2 separate regions of the Homo sapiens genome follow, and region 1 is linked to region 2. The links come from fine-mapping of genetic effects on gene expression. A gene starts in region 2. The other region holds a variant in brackets. All regions are shown on one strand. Distances are from middle to middle.

Region 1 (4,385 bases), 22 kb before region 2:
GTGTGTGCTACCACCCCTGGCTTCAATCTTACTTTGAGGATAAGAGGTAGTGACAACACAAGTCCATTAGTGCTCATGATGCATGATTTATTTCGTGGTGACACAGGGATGATGAGGAAAGGCTTGAAGGCAGTGTCTCAACTCCTCTTTCCCTAGCCCTTTCTCCCTGAAGGCATATTGGTGCTTTGCCAGCTCCACCCTTGCCCGCACCCTAAGGAAGGGACACTGGCTCCCACTGGGGAGTTGGAGTGAACTATGGCACCAGCACACAGGTGTGGGCTTCCTGCTCCCCTGGGGAGAGACCTCTCCTACAGACTTAAGTGGTGCCTGCCCCCAGAGGATTTCTCTATGGGAACTGCTCCAACACCCCTGGAGTCTCAGAGCTGGGGGTCTCAGGTGGGCACCAGCTTTCCTCCCTTCCCGTTTCTAACAGGGCCCCCATGAGAAAGCAAGAATGTGGCAGAGATGACCGTTGGTATTGCTGGGGCCCAGGCAGGCAGGGCTGGGAGGGGCAGCGTGGTGGGGCAGCTCTGTCCAGTGGGTCTACGGCCTCTGGCCAGCTGCATGGACACGACATCCTCAGGAGAGGGTGTGGTAGTCCCTGGCAGGCCTGCTGAGCTCTGTTCTTGCGAGACCTGGCTACCCCAGAGATAATAACCAAGGGGATTCATAGACTGCCATCGTTACACCATGCATGTGTGATATCTAATTATCTTCCTAGGTCAGATGTAGTGAGGTGGAGCTGGTGGCTTGGGAAGAAATTGTCCCATGAACCTGAGGTTAGATCCCATGTGGCAGCTCCATGACATAATCACACTGGAGTTTCAGGGTGGTGTGGTTGGTGACCCATGAGGATTGGTGAGCTCTCGCCCTCAGGGTTTCATGGCATACATGGCCCTGGATAGGCTGGTCTCCTCCTGAAGAAGTGAGGAAACCTTAGAAGATGTGTCTCAAAACATTCCTTAGTCTCAGTCTCCTGGGAAGCTCCACTGAGGATAGATCCTTTGAGCTGACTCAGGGAACTGTGACTTCTTAGGGATAACTGGCTCAGAGGGCTCGTTTTCACCAAGCTTCAAGCACAGCCCTCAGTGGGACTTCCAATGCCAGGGCATGTCTAGGAGGTCAGGGAGGGCAGACTAGGAATAGGGAAAGGCAGCCTTCTGGGAAGGTGGAGTTTGAATGAAGGAGGAAGAGTGTGGTGTCCCTAAGGACAGTCCTAAGTCCCAAGAAGGGGCTAATTCCTCTCTGGGAGGCTGGGGCTGGAAGAGGCCGGAAGCCTGGGAAATGGGCAGCCTTCCTCCAGAGGCTTACAAAGAGAAGGAAGGTGTCCTCTACCGATTCAAAAGGGGCATCTGCTTACAACAGAACAGAGGTCCCTGTACACAGAGTGGAAAGTGTTAACACCAGTTCCTTTTTTTTTTTTTTTTTTGAGACAGAGTCTCATTTCCAGGCTGGAGTGCAGTGGTGCGATCACAGCTCACTGCAGCCTCGACCTCCAAGGCTCAAGCGATCCTCCTATCTCAGCCCCCTTGATAGCTGGGACTACAGGCACACATCACCATGCCTGGCTAATTTTTTTAAAAATTTTTTATTTTTGTAGATACGGGGTTTTGCCATGTTATCCAGGCTGATCTCCAGCTCCTGAGCTCAAGTGATTGGCCTGCCTCAACCTCTCAAAGTGCTAGGATTACAGGCGTGTGTCACCACGCCCAGCCCATAACACCAGTTCTTAATCTGGAGCGAGCAAGTGAGTTGCCTGGAATTCTAACCATTCATTCATCCAATAAGTGTTTGTGGAGCATCTTATTAGCATCCGGCCTGTGAGCATATCTGTGATTGGGTGCACACATGCATTTTCCTGCATTCATCAGCTTCTCAGAAGGGCTCTGCAGCTACCCTAAGGCGAAGGCCCTCAGGCTAGAAGTCCCATCTGCTGCAGGGAGGGCTTGTGTCTGATGCAGAAGGGAGCAGGTGTGGGGAGGGGCTAGGGCGCCTCGGTTTTTTGCCTGCTCAGCACCCATTCCCTGATCTTCTGGTGGCAGCATCCTGAGTTTTCTTAGGAAATATAATCACATTTTTTTTTAAAGGAAGTGATTGCGATGTGTCACTCCAAAGATTTTGAGGAGTCCAACACCTGGATGATCAGTTTCACTCATAGGAGCAGAGGAACTTAGCTGCTGCGCCACTGAAAAGGTGCTGGACTGAGAGTCAGAAGCCCGAGTTTGGATTCTGGCTCTGCCACTGATTAACAGAGTTTTTCAGACGTTATCTACAGACCTCTGATTTTGAAGGTTGAGTTAATCGTGTGCTTTGGATAAGAGCAAAACCATCACTGGTCTGTAGACTGCACCTTGGGACCACTCCATCGTTCATATCCTAGGACTTGTCTTTGTCAACAACTGCATGCAGCCAGGCGCAGTGACTCAGGCCTGTAATCCCAGCACTTTGGGAGGCTGAGGTGAGAGGATAGCTTGAGGCCAGGAGTTTGAGATCATCCTGGGCAATAAAGCAAGACCCTGTCTCCAAAAAATAAAATAATTAGCTGGGCGTGGTGGCACAAGCCTGTAGTCCCAGCTACCCGGAAGGATC[G/A]CTTGGGCCCAGGAGACAGAGGCTGCAGTAAGCTATGATCGTGCCACTGCACTCTAGCCTGGGATAAGGTGAGACTCCGTCTCTTAAATCAATCAAACAAACAAACAAACAAAACCTGCAGGCCAGGCACAGTGGCTCATGCCTGTAATCTCAGCACTTTGGAGGCCGAGGTGGGTGGACCACGAGGTCAGGAGATAGAGACCATCCTGGCCAACATGGTGAAACACGGTCTCTATTAAAAATACAAAAATTAGCTGGGCATGGTGGCGCGTGCCTGTAATCCCAGCTACTCGGGAAGCTGAGGCAGGAGAATCGCTTGAACCAGGGAGTCGGAGGTTGCAGTGAGCCGAGGTCACGCCATTGCACTCCAGCCTGGTGACAGAGTGAGACTCTGTTTCAAAAAAAAAAAAAAAAAACCCAAAAACAAAACAAAACTGCATCCCTCGTGTAACTTCAATTTCCTTCTGCCACCATCTGCCCACCACCTCCTGTTTCTCTATTTTTTCTACTCACTCTCTCTAGTACACCAGCAACCCATCCTAAAATCCATCGATCCTACCACCTTTTTGGGTTCTCTGCACCCCTCTGTACCCACTTCCCCCTTTAACCTGACCAGATACTGTGGGCCATCATTACAACCACTCCCTTGCCTACAGCTCAGCTCCCTTGCCCACTCCCTTCTTGCTTTATCATATTTGCCCAGCAAATCCCTAATCTTGGTGAAACCCGTCTTTCCATCTTCTCCCCACCTGCACTTGGAGGGACTAGAAGAGGAAAAAACTCAGACACCCTAACTGACCATGCCCATCTACCTTAAAGGAGGCCTGAGGCTGTCTGGCAAGCCCATTATACGCCTGGGCCCATTCTCTCTGCCACGCTCTGGGGTGATGAATTCACACCTTCTTTTCTCTTCTCTTCTTCAGCCTCAGCACCCCCTTCCTGCTGTTCACTCAGCTAAGGACACTGCTTCTTATTTCTCGGGAAAAACAGAAGCCATCAGGGGAAAGCTTCCTAAGGCTCCCATCACAGACCTAGTGCATTTTACCTGTCTAAGCCACCTTCCTCCTTTGACTCAGAGGGACTCTGCTGCTCCTGTCCAAGGCCAACCCTCCCCGTGCACTTGACCCCACCCTCTCGATTCCTCAGGGACTCCACACTTGCCTTGTCCCTTCTCTTCCTTCTGCATCATCAATTTCCAGTCTCTCTTGGCTTATTCTGGCCAGCATTACACACATGGTCTAACAGCTCCTCCCCTTAAAGCAAAATCCTCCCTTAGTCCCACACCCCTCTCCAGTGTCAGTCCCATGTCTCTGCTCCTTTTATAGCAAAACTCCTTGGAGGTGTGGTCTCCACTTCCTCTGGTCCCATACTTATGCTTCACTCCAATCAGGCAGTTGTCCCCAGAACACTCTCTTGTCTCGTAAAACTGCTCTTGGCTGGGTGCGGTGGCTCACACCTGTAATCCAAGCACTCTGGGAGGCTGAGATGGGTGGATCACGAAGTCAGGAGATCAAGACCATCCTGGCTAACATGGTGAAACCCCGTCTCTACTAAAAATACAAAAAAATTAGCCGGGCGTGGTGGTGGGCGCCTGTAGTCCCAGCTACTTGGGAGGCTGAGGCAGGAGAATGGTGTGAACCCGGGAGGCAGAGCTTGCCGTGAGCTGAGATTACGCCACTGCACTCCAGCTTGGGCGACAGAGCAAGAGTCCATCTCAAAAACAAAAACAAAAACAAAACAAAACAAAAAAAACCTGCTCTCATTGCTAGGCACGGTGGCTCACGCCTATAATACCA
Region 2 (4,385 bases):
CCTCCTTCTCTGTGGGTTAGGACCAGACCCCTAACACCCTCCCTCCCCTAACATCCCATCCAATCTCACAGCCATGAGTTTGGTAATATAAGCTGCCAGTTCCCAAATTCCTCTCTCCAACCTACATCTCCGTCCTGAGTCAATTGTCACCTTGATGTCCCTGTGATGCAACAGGTCCCAACCCAAGCTCGTTGTCTTACTCCAACCTGTTCCTTCTGCGTTCCTCACTTCAGGCATGGCATCACTGCCCTCTCAGCCAGCTCCTCCTCCCTCTGCTGTATCTAATCCACGTCCTGTCCCTGGGGCTCCACCTCTAAACATTTCTCTAGCCAGTTCCCTGCTCTCGTATCCTTGGCTCCCGCCTCCACCTCCTCACTGGTCTTTCTGCTCCCCTTGCTCTTCTCCACACTCGCCATTCCCCCATGCCATCCTCCTCCACGATTTCTCTAAAGTGGAGCAAAGGAAAAAGGAGGGCTCTGGATTTGAACCCCAGCTCCAGTCCTTCCCACCGGTAGGAACATGGCCAGGCACCTAACAGTGGCTGCTGATTTAACCTGTCCTCCAGAGGAAAGCATGTCTCACATTGGGCAAAAATAAAGCACATGAGGTCCCTGCCTTCAAGGAGCCCCAGTCTGCAGCAGAAGACAGAGACAGAAGCAAGCAGGCCAGTGCCTGTGCTAAGTGTGGGTGTGGGTTAGTCAGCCCAGAGCCCTGCAGAGCCCAGGAGAGGGGTCTGGGGGAGGGGCCAGGAAGCCTGAATGGTTCGTCTCTTAGAGCCTCAGTCTCCTTGTCTGAAAAGTGAAGACAATAACATTTATCTTGAGGGGTGGGGATGAGTCACCTGACATCTTCGTTTCAGAATTCCAGTGGGGCCTAGAGCCTGCATAGATGCTCAAAGCGTGCTTTTTGAATACATGAAAACGATGTTACCCCTCCAAGGCAGGACAGGGCAGAAGACGTAGGTCCTGGGTCATTCTGGGAATATTACTATGTGGCCGTGCACAGGTTACATCCTGACGAGGTATCTGTCCTCCCGGAGACTCCTCTGCAGAGGCTGACCCCTACCCCCGAGGTGGGCGGGGGCTGGTGCCGATGCTCTCAAGGAAGTGGGGGAGGTGGGCGTGGCCGTGGAGTCAGTCCCAGCATTCCCCTGGGCTGTGACTTCGTTGGTCTGAAAATGCTTGCACAGGTGTGCTGAGACAACGGGTGTCAGGCTGGGGGCGGGGTGGAGGTTCTCAGGGGAGAAGCGAGTGGGAGAACATGGGGGCGGTGGGGCGTTGGGGGACAATGGGGGAACTCACGAGAAGCCTGGATGTGCTGGATCCGATCCGAGAAGGCAGGGCCGAGCAGGTGGGGCACTCTAGCTTGGTTTCCGGGGAGACACTTCACCTGCCTAACCTGCACTCAGGTGAGCCTGCCGGGAGGAGGATGAACAGGTGTCGTTTCCAGGGCAGGGCCTGAGCCGATTGGCTGACGTGGCACTGCTCCTTCTGCTGGGCTGAGGCATTCCTGTGAAGGGAGGGGCTTCTGTCCGCTGCAGTTAGGGCTCGGAACACAATTCGCAGACCTGGGCAGCAGGAGGAATGTCGTCTATCTGCCCCAGAGCCTGGGCGCCAACCCATTCCACAGCTCCGACCCCGATTTAGCTTTAGCTCCAGCTTCAAAACCAACCCCTAACTCTAGCTGCAGCTGCAAACCCTAGCTAGAACTCCCAGCTTCCACCCCTGCCCCAGCTCCTGCGTCACATCTCAGCCCCAACCCCCAGCCCCATTTCCAAATTCAATTCCAGTCCCAACTCCAAATCCAACCCCTAATCTGGCTAGAAACCTCAGCCCCCAACTCCTAACTCCAACTCAAATTCTGGACTAAGGTCCTAGATCCCAACCTCACGCTCAGCCCGAACCTCGACTCCTGTTCCTGAATCCAGCCCCCAAACCCAACGCCAACCTCAAACCCAGCTTTAGCCCCAAATTCCAACATCAGCGGACCCCCAAACACAGCCCCAGTACCTCCATCCCTTGGCCCTAGGCTGCAGCCTCCAAAAGCCCCGTGCTCATTCTCCCTCAAATGAGCCCCACAGACTGGATCCTACTGGGGAAGCAGGATTTGAGTGAACAGGGAGGAGGGGTGAAGGCCTTTCAGGCAGGAGACAGGAACTCCCAGAATAAACACTTCAGAAGAAATGCCACACTCCTTCACAAGGCTCATAAAGCCCCTGCCATATACACCAGGCCAGTCATTTGCCACTGGCACCCTGCCCTCCTCTCTGCCCTTCCAGTTTTTGAACTCAAGAGTTCTCCCTTGCCTGGGATATTTGCCACTCCCCAGCCTCAGTCTGGGCAACTTGCATTCTTCAACTGAGATGCCACCTCCTCCAGGAAGCCTTCCCTGACTTGCAGGCTGGTTTAGAGGTGCCTCTTTGGTGCACCCATGGCCCCTGTGCTTCCCCAACAACTACTCTTACTGCAATATGCTTAATTGCCTATTATGTATTTACCTGTCATTCCCTGCTAGATGTGTGGTCCCCAGCAAGCAGACGGACAGTGCCTCTTTTGCTAATCATCATGACCTCAGTAGCTAGTATGTAGGACGTAATCAATACATATTTGTTGAATGATTGATTAGCAGACTAAATGATAGCATGAACTGACAGCTGTGGGGGTTTTGAGCAGGAAGCATGTGAGAGGAAGCTGGAAAGACAAGTTTGGCTCAGGCTGTTCAGGGTCTTGAAGGCCCATAGTGAGGCACTTGGGCTGTGTAAGGGGCCCATGGAGGGTTCTAAAGTTTAATAGGGACATGGTGGGAGCTTCTAATAGGCAAATCTGGCACCACACACACACCACCCTCCGGACTGGTGAAGGGCAGGCTGGCTGGAGCTGTTGTAGGCTGTCCCTCATCTCCTGGATCAGCCCCTGTGATGTCTCTTGCTTTCTCCTCCTGATGTGTATGAACTAGAAAAGAAAAACAAGATCACCCTTATCTTGTTATTATCAGTTCACAAAATAATGGTGCTCGACCTGCTTTCGCATCTCTTTGCTTTGTTCTGCGGAGATGACTGGAGGCCAGTCATAATTCTAGAACAGCCCTGTCCGCTAGAAATATAGCCTGAGCCGCCGGGCATGGTGCCTCACGCCTGTAATCCCAGCACTTTGGGAGGCTGAGGTGGGCGGATCACGAGGTCAGGAGTTCAAGAGCAGCCTGGCCAACGTGGTGAAACCTCGTCTCTACTAAAAATACAAAAATTAGCCAGGCATGGTGGCAGGCCCCTGTAATCCCAGCTACTCAGGAGGCTGAGGCAGGAAAATTGCTTGAACTTGGGAGGCAGAGGTTCAGTGAGGCGAGATTGTGCCATCGCACTCCAACCTGGGTGACAGAGCAAGGCTCCGTCTGCGGGCGGGGGCTGGGGCACGGGGAAGAAAAAAGAAATATAGCGTGAGCTACATATATAAACTTTTCTAATAGCTGCATTCAAAAATGAAAAAGAAACCCATGAGATTAATACATTTAAATTAATACATTTTAATTCCAAAACACATTTTTATATATGTTATTGATGAGCTATTTTACAGTTTTATTTTGTACAGGGTATTTTATTTTTATTTTTAAAAATAGAGATGGGGGTCTCGCTATGTTGTCCAGGCTGTTCTCAAACTCCTGGGTTCAAGCGATCCTCCTGCCTTGGCTTCCCAAAGTGCTGAGATTACAGGCGTGAACCAAAAGTCTTGAAAATTTGGTAGGTATTATTTTATACTTACAGAGCATCTCATTTATCCCAGCCACACTGCAAATGCCCAGGCACCACATCTGTCATGTGGCTGTGTCCTTACTGGATGGCATGGCTTTAGATGTCCTTTCCCTCAGAAAAAGGTCAGTGCAGTCTGGATCAGGAGGATGGTTGGGCGGAGTGGGGTGGGGAGACAGTGGTGTGGCATTGCAGGTGTTCATCCTGCCAATTTGCAAAGCATTATAAAGGTATCCCCTTTATAATAAAGGGGCTTGACTCAGAGGAGCAGGGGAGCCAGGGGCCCAACAGGGCTTGCTGGCTGCAGATTCCTCTTGCACACATCTGACATTTATTTACCCACCCTGGTCCCCAGGTCCAGTCCCAGCCAGACCCATGGGCCAGCTGTCCCAGGCAGAGCTGCAGCAGGGGACCCATGAAATTTTCCTTCCTTTACCCCTTCCCTTAGGGGTTTGAAGGGAAATTTTTGGATGGGAGAAACAACACCTAAAAGCTTCGTTGGTTTAAACATTGATTGGGCAAGTCTCTATTCTAGTTCTGGGTCTTATCAAGTAACTTGGAGTCAAGTGGAAAGGCAGGCTCTTCACAGGGCTGTTGAACTCTGTCCCCAAAGCAGAGGTTGTTGGGGTAATTCAGATTGGTG

Alleles and levels. Positions count from the first base shown, and alleles are read on the strand shown. Sizes are in standard deviations (SD) of each study's normalised expression.
As copies of A replace G in region 1, the expression in ovary of the gene that starts at base 2,112 in region 2 goes down (moderate effect, 0.45 SD a copy in GTEx).

Evidence for each region. PIP is the estimated chance that this variant, and not a neighbour inherited with it, causes the effect.
Region 1: its variant is fine-mapped to the expression of TMEM125 in ovary (GTEx, PIP above 0.99).

The regions. Positions count from the first base shown.
Region 1 is chr1:43,289,895-43,294,279 of GRCh38, reverse strand. No RefSeq gene overlaps it. Among named protein-coding and RNA genes, the nearest start is that of C1orf210, 6.5 kb to the right of the region's middle. The variant G/A (reference allele first, on the strand shown) is at 2,590.
Region 2 is chr1:43,267,710-43,272,094 of GRCh38, reverse strand. TMEM125 (transmembrane protein 125) reads right to left here and starts at 2,112. Exons shown (of 4, transcript NM_144626.3): 1 at 2,010-2,112; 2 at 1,302-1,414. RefSeq lists an enhancer at 1,978-2,481.